Regions from separate parts of the Homo sapiens genome. Here region 1 is linked to region 2. Evidence: fine-mapped expression QTL. A gene starts in region 2. The other region holds a variant in brackets. All regions are shown on one strand. Distances are between the middles of the regions. Region 1 overlaps ARMC3 (armadillo repeat containing 3). Region 2 holds the start of DNAJC1 (DnaJ heat shock protein family (Hsp40) member C1).

What was found. PIP is the estimated chance that this variant, and not a neighbour inherited with it, causes the effect.
Region 1: its variant is fine-mapped to the expression of DNAJC1 in whole blood (INTERVAL, PIP above 0.99).

What each region holds. Positions count from the first base shown.
Region 1 is chr10:22,945,651-22,951,039 of GRCh38, forward strand. ARMC3 (armadillo repeat containing 3) reads left to right here. Exons shown (of 19, transcript NM_173081.5): 3 at 494-611. Among named protein-coding and RNA genes, the nearest start is that of ARMC3, 20 kb to the left of the region's middle. The variant TA/T (reference allele first, on the strand shown) is at 2,082.
Region 2 is chr10:22,001,517-22,006,905 of GRCh38, forward strand. DNAJC1 (DnaJ heat shock protein family (Hsp40) member C1) reads right to left here and starts at 2,214. Exons shown (of 12, transcript NM_022365.4): 1 at 1,697-2,214. The coding sequence starts at 1,918. RefSeq lists a silencer at 1,848-2,217 and enhancers at 1,878-2,378, 2,258-2,307, 2,338-2,467.

The DNA.
Region 1 (5,389 bases), 940 kb after region 2:
ATGGTCATGGAATAAAATATATACAGGTATTCAAGGATTGTGTATATTGAGTAAGCATTTATATCATTTGATAAACATCTGTCATGTGCCAGATGACGTGCTAAGTGCTTTACATACATGACCTCTACTCCTTTCCTTGTTTCTTTGAGATAGTACCTTTGAGATAGGTACTATTATCCTCATCAAACAGAAAAAGAAATTGACATTCTAGTAGCATAATTCATTTGATTCCACATGGCTAAATTGAGAAACTAGACCTGTCAGATTCCAAAACATTTGGCTCTTCCCACCATACCCCAGGCATTCCAATGCTGACAATTGTTTCTCTAGCGGTTGATGTATTTTTAATGAAAAACTTTGCAGTGCACTTATTGGGCAGTGACCACATCCTTTTTGCAAGATTACATTTTCTTTAAGTTTTAAGACCCATTCATTTTTAATGTGATTTTTAAAGCTCATATGTGAAACTGATAGTTTTCTTTCTGCCTTTCAGTTTGACCCATTAATGATTGAAAGCAAAAAAGCAGCAACTGTGGTGTTAATGCTTAATTCTCCAGAAGAGGAAATTTTGGCTAAAGCATGTGAAGCCATTTATAAATTTGCTTTAAAAGGTTTGGATTTTTTTCAGTTTATCTTTCTGTTTCATTAATTTCTTAAAATATTTACTACCTCTTGGGCACTTTTCTTCCTAGTCTTTAACTTACTTGCTGTCGGATGAATTATTTCAGACAACCAGGATATTATTTAATGCATTACCTAAGAGCAATCTCTCTTCCTGAGTTCCTAGCTTAATCTTAAGGAGTAATTTAGTCACTGGGTAGAACAGTCATTCTGAAAGTTTCATTGTAGTTTTAGAAATTGTAAATGTCACAGAAGCTAAAAGAACTCCCAATAGTCAAGGCTGGAACAATTAGAACAACAAAGTAAAGCAGTATTGGCTTATCATCCAAGTGGAAAATAAGTATCCATGAGTCCATACTGATATAAATAAAATGGGTGAATAAATGGAAGAGAAGAGACAAATCTCCTATGCAGAAGAATTCCTAATAGTTTATGTAGACACTCTTGACTTCAAGGAGGTGAAATGTAACTTCCGACTCTTTGAGTGGGAGAGGTACAGAGTGACTTATTTCCAAAGAGTACAATGTAGAAATGGGGAAAATAAGCTTACAATGGATAAACCTGACAAACACTACCGCAGCTAGGTGATCAAAATCAACACCACACATCTGGGCATGGTGGCTAATGCCTGTAATCTCAGCACTTCGGGAGGCCAAGGTGGGTGGATCACTTGAGCCCAGGAGTTTGAGACCAGCCTTGGCAATGTGGCAAAGCCCCATCTCTATATATAAAAATATATATATACAAAAACTAGCCATGTGTAGTGGTGCATGCTTTTAGTCCCAGCTACTCGGGAGGCTGAGGTGGGAGGATCACTTGAGCCCAGGAGTTCAAGACCAGCCTTGGCAACATGGCAAAACCCCACCCCTACAAAAAATAGAAACATTAGCCAGGTATGATGGCACATGTCTGTAGTCCCAGCTATTTGGGAGGCTGAGGTGGGAGGACTGCTTGACCCTGGGAGGCAGAGGTTGCAGTGAGCTGAGACTGTGCCACTGCACTCCAGCCTGGGCAGCAGAGAGAGACCCTGTCTCAAAAAACAAACCAACCAACCAAAAAAAAAAAACAGAAAACAAACCACCAACTGTGATAAGTCCTATCAATATTAGGTGCTCTTGATATGATGTGATGAAAATGACACTTTATTTCTGTGTTATTTTTCTTAAAAATCTATAACCCCAGTTTAATAATGATTTTTAAAATCAGACAAATCCCGGTTCAGGTACAAAATACCTAGCCAATGCTCCTCAAAACTGTCATGGCTATCTACAACAAGCAAGTTTGAGAAATTCACATAATGGAGGCATAATGAGTAATGACATAGGATCCTGGGACAGAAAGAAGATATTAGGTTAAAACTAAGGAAATCCGAATAACTAAGTACTTTTGTTAATAACAGTGTCTTCATATTAGTTCATTAACTGTAAAAAATGTACCATACTAATATCAAATGTTAATAA[TA/T]GGGGAAACTGGGTCTGAGGTATGTGCAAAGTCTTTGTACTGTCTTTGTAACTTTTCTGTAAAACTAACATTGTTGTAAAACATAAAACATTTAAAAATTATAAATATTACACATCAGGTTCTACTGAAAGGTTTATTCATAGAGGATTTAAAAACATACAAGATGCCTATATTTTAGTCTTCATATTATTACAAATGATTAGACTTTTATTATGTTGCATGACATTTTAATTGAGAATATTAATTTAATTGAGAGTTTAGTGTAACTAAACTGGTTTTTTTTAATAAACCATTTCAAACTAAGATAGGGACAATTTTGTTTTAAATAAATGATACTTGACATATTGTGTTGGAAACTGAATGAGAGAACAACAAATCATTCAATTAGCAAAGGGTATAATACTCACCTTGCTTTGTCACTCAGGTCATCATTGGGAATCCAGATGTAAACCAGAGTGTTTCTGGAAGTTACTATATCTTTTTGAGTGGATGGTGTAGAATCCTGGGTCAAATTTCAGGGAGATATTGGATTGTGCATCTATGGCAGCATGAATCCCATTCAGTCTTACGGAGTCATTATACATCATCTGGCTGTCACGTGTATCTAATTATGTGTTATCTCTTTTTGCATGACATGAAGAAATAGGCATGTATTTCATATGAAATCAATACAGAAATAATTTTAAGTCTGATGTTTTATACTAGTAGTATTTTCTAAAATTAAAAAAAAAATGATAGGACTTTGGTTTCTGGCCATGACGGACCACTCTACTGCCTGTAACAATGAATGAAACAGACCCAATATGTGAAAGTAGAGTAGACTTACTCTATTGGTGGAAACAATGAAGAAAATAAACGAGATATATGAAATAACAGTTGACAAGACCATCAACATCAGACAATAAAGGGCAGTGACCACTGAGAGACGGGAAACAAGGGAAGTAAACCCTATGATTGCCTCAGATTTTTGACTTTAGAGAGCTTTTTGGCCATAGCACTGGAAAAGGTAACCTGGTGGATTCTCTGAGTTAAGAAGACAAACCTGAAAGTCCAGAGAAATAAAGGTATTCAGAGTTTTCAGGACAGAGCAAAGGAGAGGAATGAGTTTCACAGAAGGAGAACTCAGGAGCTCTGTAAAGGGTCTCATTCTTGTATTTAGAAGAGTAGTGAACAGCATGTACATGTGAGGGTAATAGTTGGAACAAGAGGCACCCAAAGGATTGGGGTAACAGTGCCTGGTGCTCACATACGGCTAGGAGTAATGCCTGTTTCCATCAGCCAGGCAGAAACTTCAGAATTCATGGAGCATTGTGTAGAATACACAGAGGAGTCTTGCCTCAGTATGAGAAATAATTAGTCCTAGATTGTGCACTGTTCTAGTACCACCTAGTAAATATTAAAAGCAAGACTTGAAAGGATCAAGTTGTTTCCAAGTAACTTAATTTGTCCCTGAAAAAAATCTTAAGAATACAGAAATATCCATTGCCCAAGAAGGTAAAATTCACAATATCTTGCATCCAATAAAAAAATTACCAGGCATGAAAAAAAGCAGAAAAAACGCATAATAAGATATATATCAATGAGTAAATCAAATTGACCTAGATGTTAGAATTAGCAGGAAAAGACATTAAAAGATTAATTACAACTGTATTCTATATGTTTAGAAAGTGAAAACATGGAAGCTATAAGACAGATCCAAATACAACTTCTAGAGATGAAAACTTCAATGTCTGAAATGAAAAACACATAGGCTTTGATTAATGCAGTTTGGACATTGCAGAAGAAAAGATTAATGAACTTAAATACATAGTAACACAACCTGTCCAAAATGAAGGACAGTGAAAAGAGATTTTAAAAAGATGAACAGAGATTCAATGAGGTATGAGAAAAATTCAAGTGTCCAATATATGTGTAATTGGAGTCTCTGAAAAAGGGAGACAGGGACAGAAAAAGCGTTTGAAGAAATAATGGCCAAACTTTCCCTAAATCTGATGAAAACTCTAAGTCCATGGATCCAAAAAAGTTTGTCAAAACCCAAGTGCAAAGAATATGAAATAAACCATGCCATAGTACATTATAATCAAATTGCTTAAAATCAGTGATAAAGAGAAAATCTTAAAAGAAGCCAGAATCAGTAAAAACATGTTACATTCAAATAAAGATAAGGATGACAGTAGATAATAACAAATTATAAATAAGGATGATTTATCATCAGAAGTTATGCAAGTGAGAAGTCTGTAGAGCAACAATCTTAAAAGAATAAAAGAAAAATAAAAACTTTCAACACAGAATTACATATCCAGAAAAAAGGTCTTTCAAAAACGTAGGTGAAATAATGTTTTTTTTCCAAATATAAAAAGCTAAAATAATTTATTTCCAGCAGATCTACACTATTACTTATAATAAAAAGAGGCCTTTTAGGCAGAAGGAAACTAACACTAGATGGAAACATGGATCTACAAAAAAGAATACAGAGTGCTAGAAATGGCAACATATATGTTTTGTTATTTGAATCACTTCAAAAGCAAATTTATTAAACAAAAATAATCATATATTGTGCAACTTGAAACATATGTATAAATAAAATATATGGCAACAACAGCCCCAACATAGAAAGGGAAAAAATGGAAGTATACTATTGTTAGGATCTCATATGTGAAGTGGCATAATACCACTTCAAAGTAGACTGTGTTAAGTTAAAGATGTATACTGCAACCCTAATGCAACCACTAAAATAACAAAATAAAGGATAATATTAAATAAGCCAATGAAAGAAATAAAATGGAATCAGTAATATTCACAGAATACATAGAAAAGAAGGCTGAATATGAAGAAAAAAGAAAACATGGAATAATGGGGCATGTAAAAAACGAGATGGTGGATTTAAATCTAACCATATCAAAAATCAAATTAAATATAAATGTCCTAAATACCTTGATTATCAGGGAGAAATTGGTATATTGGATAAAAAGCAAGAGTAAACCACATGCCACCTTCAAGAAGTGCATTTAGAATAGAAAGACAAAAATAACGCAAAAGGATGACAACAGATATGTCATGCTAGCATGAATCAAAAGAAAGCCCAAGCATTAGTAACAGAAATATTAATATTATAAAAGTAAACAGAGAAAAGAGTAGTACCAGAGATAAAGAAGGTCATTTTATAATGATAAAGGGATCAGTTAATCAAAAGACTGTGAAAAATCTTTTTTTTTTTTTTTTTGAGACAGAGTCTTGCTCTGTCACCCAGGCTGGAGTGCAGTGGCGCAATCTCGGCTCACTGCAAGCTCCGCCTCCCGGCTTCACG
Region 2 (5,389 bases):
TTATCTATGCTTCTTTATTTTCTCATCTTTGCCCAGAGAGTCAAGTGCTCTGGTTGTTCACACTGCCTAATTAACTATGCAAATCAAGTTACATGAAATTATAAATGAAAATTCTATGAGTGTTCACATGCAAAGCTAGATTACATGATCTAAATTTTAAACTGCTACTAAATTTCTGTTCTCTTAAAGGCACTTAATTTTTCATGAATAACTGGATCTTCAAGATTTCTGGATAGATTATGTTTAAGACTCTCTTTACGTACAGAATGTAATCAATGATAAATTCTAATTATTCCCAGTATTAAAGTAGTTCTTAAAAGTCATCAGAGCTTCACTAATTATTTTTACACATACTCCATCATTTGCTTTGAAAATGAGATATATAGTGTATCTATAAGCAGGGAGGGGCACCAGGCAACAGATCATAAATATAGTTATTACAAAGTTGCTTGCACATATGAATCTGAAGTGTGAAATGCCTATACTTTATAACTCTTACAAAAATAAAAAATTGTTTCACTCATGGTACCCTGGCAACCCAGCAATTTTATATTCACTGATGGAATGAAAATGCAATGTCTGAAAATTAAAATTCAGTAAAAGTTCAATAGTTCACCCACATTTATGATAACCTATGGGGGAAGGGGATGTGCATTTCATATCTAGTCATGTGAAGTGTGCCTTGAATGGCAACTATCGTAAACATTAATTTTTTACTCCCATAACTATTCAAAGCATTGTACGAAGGGCTCAATCAGATCGTGTGAAGTGTACATTTTTCACCCCATAAGCCTGAAATCAGCGAAATGTTATCTTCTCCTTCGCACAAGGCTTCAGGTAGAGACTGGATATCTACCCTCACTCAACCACCCTCAATGGTAGAACTAAAAAGCAACAAATGGATTTTACAAGTTAATGTCTTAAGCTATAGAAGAAAACGAAATGAAACAAAAGGAAAAGGGGAAAAAAAAACCCATTCCTACATTACTGACCGGGGGCTTCTCTTCCAATCGCATCCCAAGTCCTTTGCTGCTCAAAAAACTTAACACCTCCAACCTGGTTAGACGCTTCAAATTCCTCCAGATTTCTAAACTGCGAAAGCGAAACAAACATCTACCTAACAGGCTAAAAAGATGACGAAGTACAAAGTAAGAAAAACTTTTGCAACACAGACACTGGCCACAGTGCATTCCTACTTTCCCAGAAGGGAAGAGGAGGGGAGGCAGCTGAAATAAGAATAAGGATGAGGTAAGTATCGGTGGAAGATGACAGTTTAGGGTGAGAAGCGGCTGCTCTTTCTCACATTCAGGGGGACAGGAAGGCAAAAGGTAGGTGTTAAATTAAAAAAAAAAAAAAGTCTACCCACACCACTCTTCGTTCTTCCTCCAGCACAGCTGGAGGGGGAAGGCTCTTCCCCAGAACGCCGGAGCAGAGAGAAGGCATCGCCACCCTAGGCTAGTGGCGCCGTCCAGCCTGTCACTGGGGCTGGGACTAGAAAAGTTGAAGCAGGAGTAAAGATCTGGGGAAGACGGACACGTCCTTCCAAGGCTGAGGACCCCGGTGACCCGAGCTGAGGGCAGCCAGAGCCCGGGGTGACCAAGCCCTGCCCTACGTGTCCGGCTGTCTCTGAGGAACCGGGTCGCCTGACGCCTGCCCTGGCCCCTCTCCGCCCGGCCCCGCGCGCCTCCTTGCTTACCTGCTGCACCCCGAGGAACTGGTAGAAGTTGAGCTGCACCTCCTCCACTAAGTCAAACAACTCCAGGTCTCCGCTCTCCCAGCCGCGCGCCGGCGCCACGGCGGCCAGCAGCAGCAGCAGCAGCCACAGCAGCGGCGTCCGCGGCGGCGGCGGCGGGAACGGCACCAGCCCGAGCTGGCGGCGTCCAGGAAGCTGCGCCGGCTGGGAGCAAGGAGCCGTCATCGCGCTGGGCTCGGAAAGGTCACCCGCCGCGCAGCTCCGTTGGCCGAGAGCTGGGACGTGGCGGGCGGCGCTGGCTGTGGGGAACAGCGCCTGTCAGTGAAAAGCGCGGGCAGGCGCACCGGAGCGGCCCGCCAGGTGGCTGGCCCCAGACAGAGCGCGGAGGCGGCGGGAGCCGGCTGCCGGACGGGCGGGTGGGTAGGCGGGCGGGGCCGCAGCCAGCGCTACGTTCCGAAGACCCTCGCCCCCAGGCCTACACACAGCTGTAGAGGCAGCGCCCGGCGCCTGGGCTGCACAGTGGGTGAGGCTTCCCTTCGCCTCAGCCTATCCCAGGCCTCGCTTCCGGTGACATCATGTCTCCTAGCAACCGCGGGAAGGGGGCGTGGCCGGAAGCCTGGACGCCTGGCGCCCCAGATCTGGGCCTGGGTGAAATGCCTCTCAATCACTGGCGCGCACGGAGCAGCTGTACCTGCGCCCACATGGGCTGAGAGACAGGGACGGTTATAGCCATCTCGCGTCCATCTGGAACGCCCCACGTGGACTTCCCCTGAAATAGCTACTGTCTTCCTCTCCCCTAGCTATCGAACACTAAAAGCATATTTGAAGCCTGATTAATTGATTATGGCTTCCATGCATTTAATTAGTCCATCAGCAAAGAAGACAGGACAAGTTGAACCAGGTTCTAAAAGGGGCAAATCTAGTAAGTAGAGAGAGGTAGAGCAGAAAAGGAATTGAAACCAAAACAAAAAGTATACTTCTAATTATGAATTAAGATTTACAGGCATAATACCATAAAATGACCTGGTAGAATTAACAGTTAATAATGGTGACTCAATCATAGTTGGAGGAGAAATGTAGTTTATCCACCTTAGCCCACCTCCAGTTGGGGTTCCTTTGAAAACAGACCTCAATTGAGATGTTTCTGTTTTAAAAGACAGGCTAAAAACCTCCTCTCCCATAACAATGTCTCACCTTCTAGTCTTGCATTGCTTCTGTTCAAGCTCTTTTCAAGTTATTTTCTCCACCACAATTCTCTTGTGTGGACTTTATTATTGTGTGCTTAGCACAATGCATAGCACATGAGAGCACTCAATTAGTTGAACTGAATCCTGTGACTACCTCCCTACCACCATTCCCCCTACCACAGATTTTTAGTTTATTTATTTATTTATTTAGAGACGGAGTTTTGCTCTTGTTGCACAGGCTGGAGTGCAATGACACCATCTCGGCTCACTGCAACCTCTGCCTCCCACGTTCAAGCAATTCTCCTGGCTCAGCCTCCCGAGTAGCTAGGATTACAGACTCCTGCCACCATGCCTGGCTAATTTTTTGTATTTTTAGTAGAGACGGGGTTTCACCGTGTAGGCCAGATTGGTCTCAAACTCCTGACCTCACATGATGTGATCTACCCACCTCAGCCTCCCAAACTGCTGGGATTACAGGCATGAGCCACCACCCCCAGCCTAGTTTATTTTTGGTTATATCAGTTTTCTTAAAGTGAACGTCATCTTTACCAAGTCCCTAAATTAGGTTACTGTTTATTCAATGAACAAAACATCGAAATAAGATGAAATTAATGATCTTAAGCACTACTTTTACATATTATAGTAACATTCATCTTTTCTCCTAATTTGATCATTAGATTAAGTGCAATAAAACCTTTGAAACTGGTGCCATATTGCCACAAATCTGGGATTCTTACCCCGATCTTGTAGCAGACAGCCTAGTATTTCCCTTTTGAGTTTTACCTTTATGTTGTCTGAGAACCTCGGGGACTTACTCCATCTAAAGATAGCCCATCCTCTTTCTAAGGCCATGCTGAAACAGAATTGGATTCTATTAATAATACTTCTCATGGACATAAGGTATTACTCAAAAATTCATGCTGCCCAGCTCCAATGACACTTGTCCACCCTGAGATGATCTTCTTGCTTGTCCAGGTTCCTGCAAAGACCACAGTGATATTCATATTTAGACTTCTAGCTTGGCCTCTTTACCTATTCAGTCATTGTCCCAAAAATTACAGTGCAATTGAATAAATCTTTTGCTGAGGTCTGAACTAAGGGAGTGACAGTATCCACTGTTTTCTTCCCTGGTGACATGTACTAATTCTGGGCATAGACTCATCCAGCTTGGCCTGGGCAGAGGGAGTTTACACAGAAAAAGAGAAACCAGTGAGATGTTTAACCATCATGTGAGCTGTGAAATGGATTGGAAATATAGAGGAGCCCCAAACATATAGCCAGTTTTCCCACAGGACATTCGCTGAGTTCTGGGGTGGTGCAGGAGGCTGAGCAGCTGGGCGTGATAGGCAGAGTAAAATTACCCCATATTCTACTGCATAGAAAGCTAATTCTGCTTAGAAGGATCCTGCCTCAAATACACAAGCATTCTCCCCCTTCAAGACATTTACACTATTTTTGAAGTTGTATGAGAAGGAGGCTGAAGATCTACGTTTAAAACCTCTCAAAGGCAGAACTGAATCTCAGAGCAGAGGAAACAGCAGCTGTCCAGGCTCTTGATCAAAAGCCCAGAGGAATCACACATGAAGAAGAGAGAGAAACCACAAGAGAACTATCTTACTGAAACCGCACCCCAATCCCAACCCAGCTCATCCTTGATTAGACAGAGATAATCAGAACATCATCCTATTTGTCTATGTTTATCCCTAGAAGAAAATAACATCATCTATATTGTCTATAGATCTTTAATATAAAAGTCTAACATTTGTAAAAAAAAATTATGAGGTGTGAGAAGAGCAGGAAAATTTGACCAACAATCAAGAAAAAAAAAATAATAGAAGATCCACAGATAAGCCAACTATTGAAGTTTAGATAAGAACTTTAAAATAACTATTATGAAATAAAGCCATAGGTTATAAAATAGAAGAAAACATGAACAAGATGGATTAAAATATGCAGAATTTTAAGAGTATTAAAATCCATAAAAAAGAATCAATGGAAAATATTTAACTGAAAAATGTAATTTCTGAAAGGAATATTGCAATGGATCAGTTTAATAGCAACCTGGACACAGCAGAACAGAGGGTTAGTGAATTTGGAGACTGAGCAAGAAAAAATACCTAAACTCAAGCACAGAGAGAAAAACAAATGGAAAAAATAGAACACAGCTTAATAGGCATGTGTACAATGAATAAACCCAGGATAGGTATAACTGGAGCCTTAGAAAAAGAGGAGACAGAGAATGAAGCAGAAGCAATATTTGAAGATATAATAGCCAAGAATTTTACAAAAGTAATGAAAGACATAAAACCACAGATGAAAAAAATATCTCAAAATGAATCCTAGACCTCAATGTATGAGTTAATGCTACCAAACTCTTGTAAGAAAAAAAGGGAGTAAATCTTAGTGACCTTGGGTTAGCCAGTGGTTTCTTATATATGACACAGAAACATAAATGACAGAAGAAAAAAAATAGATAAATTGGACTGCACAGAAATTAAACGTATGCTGC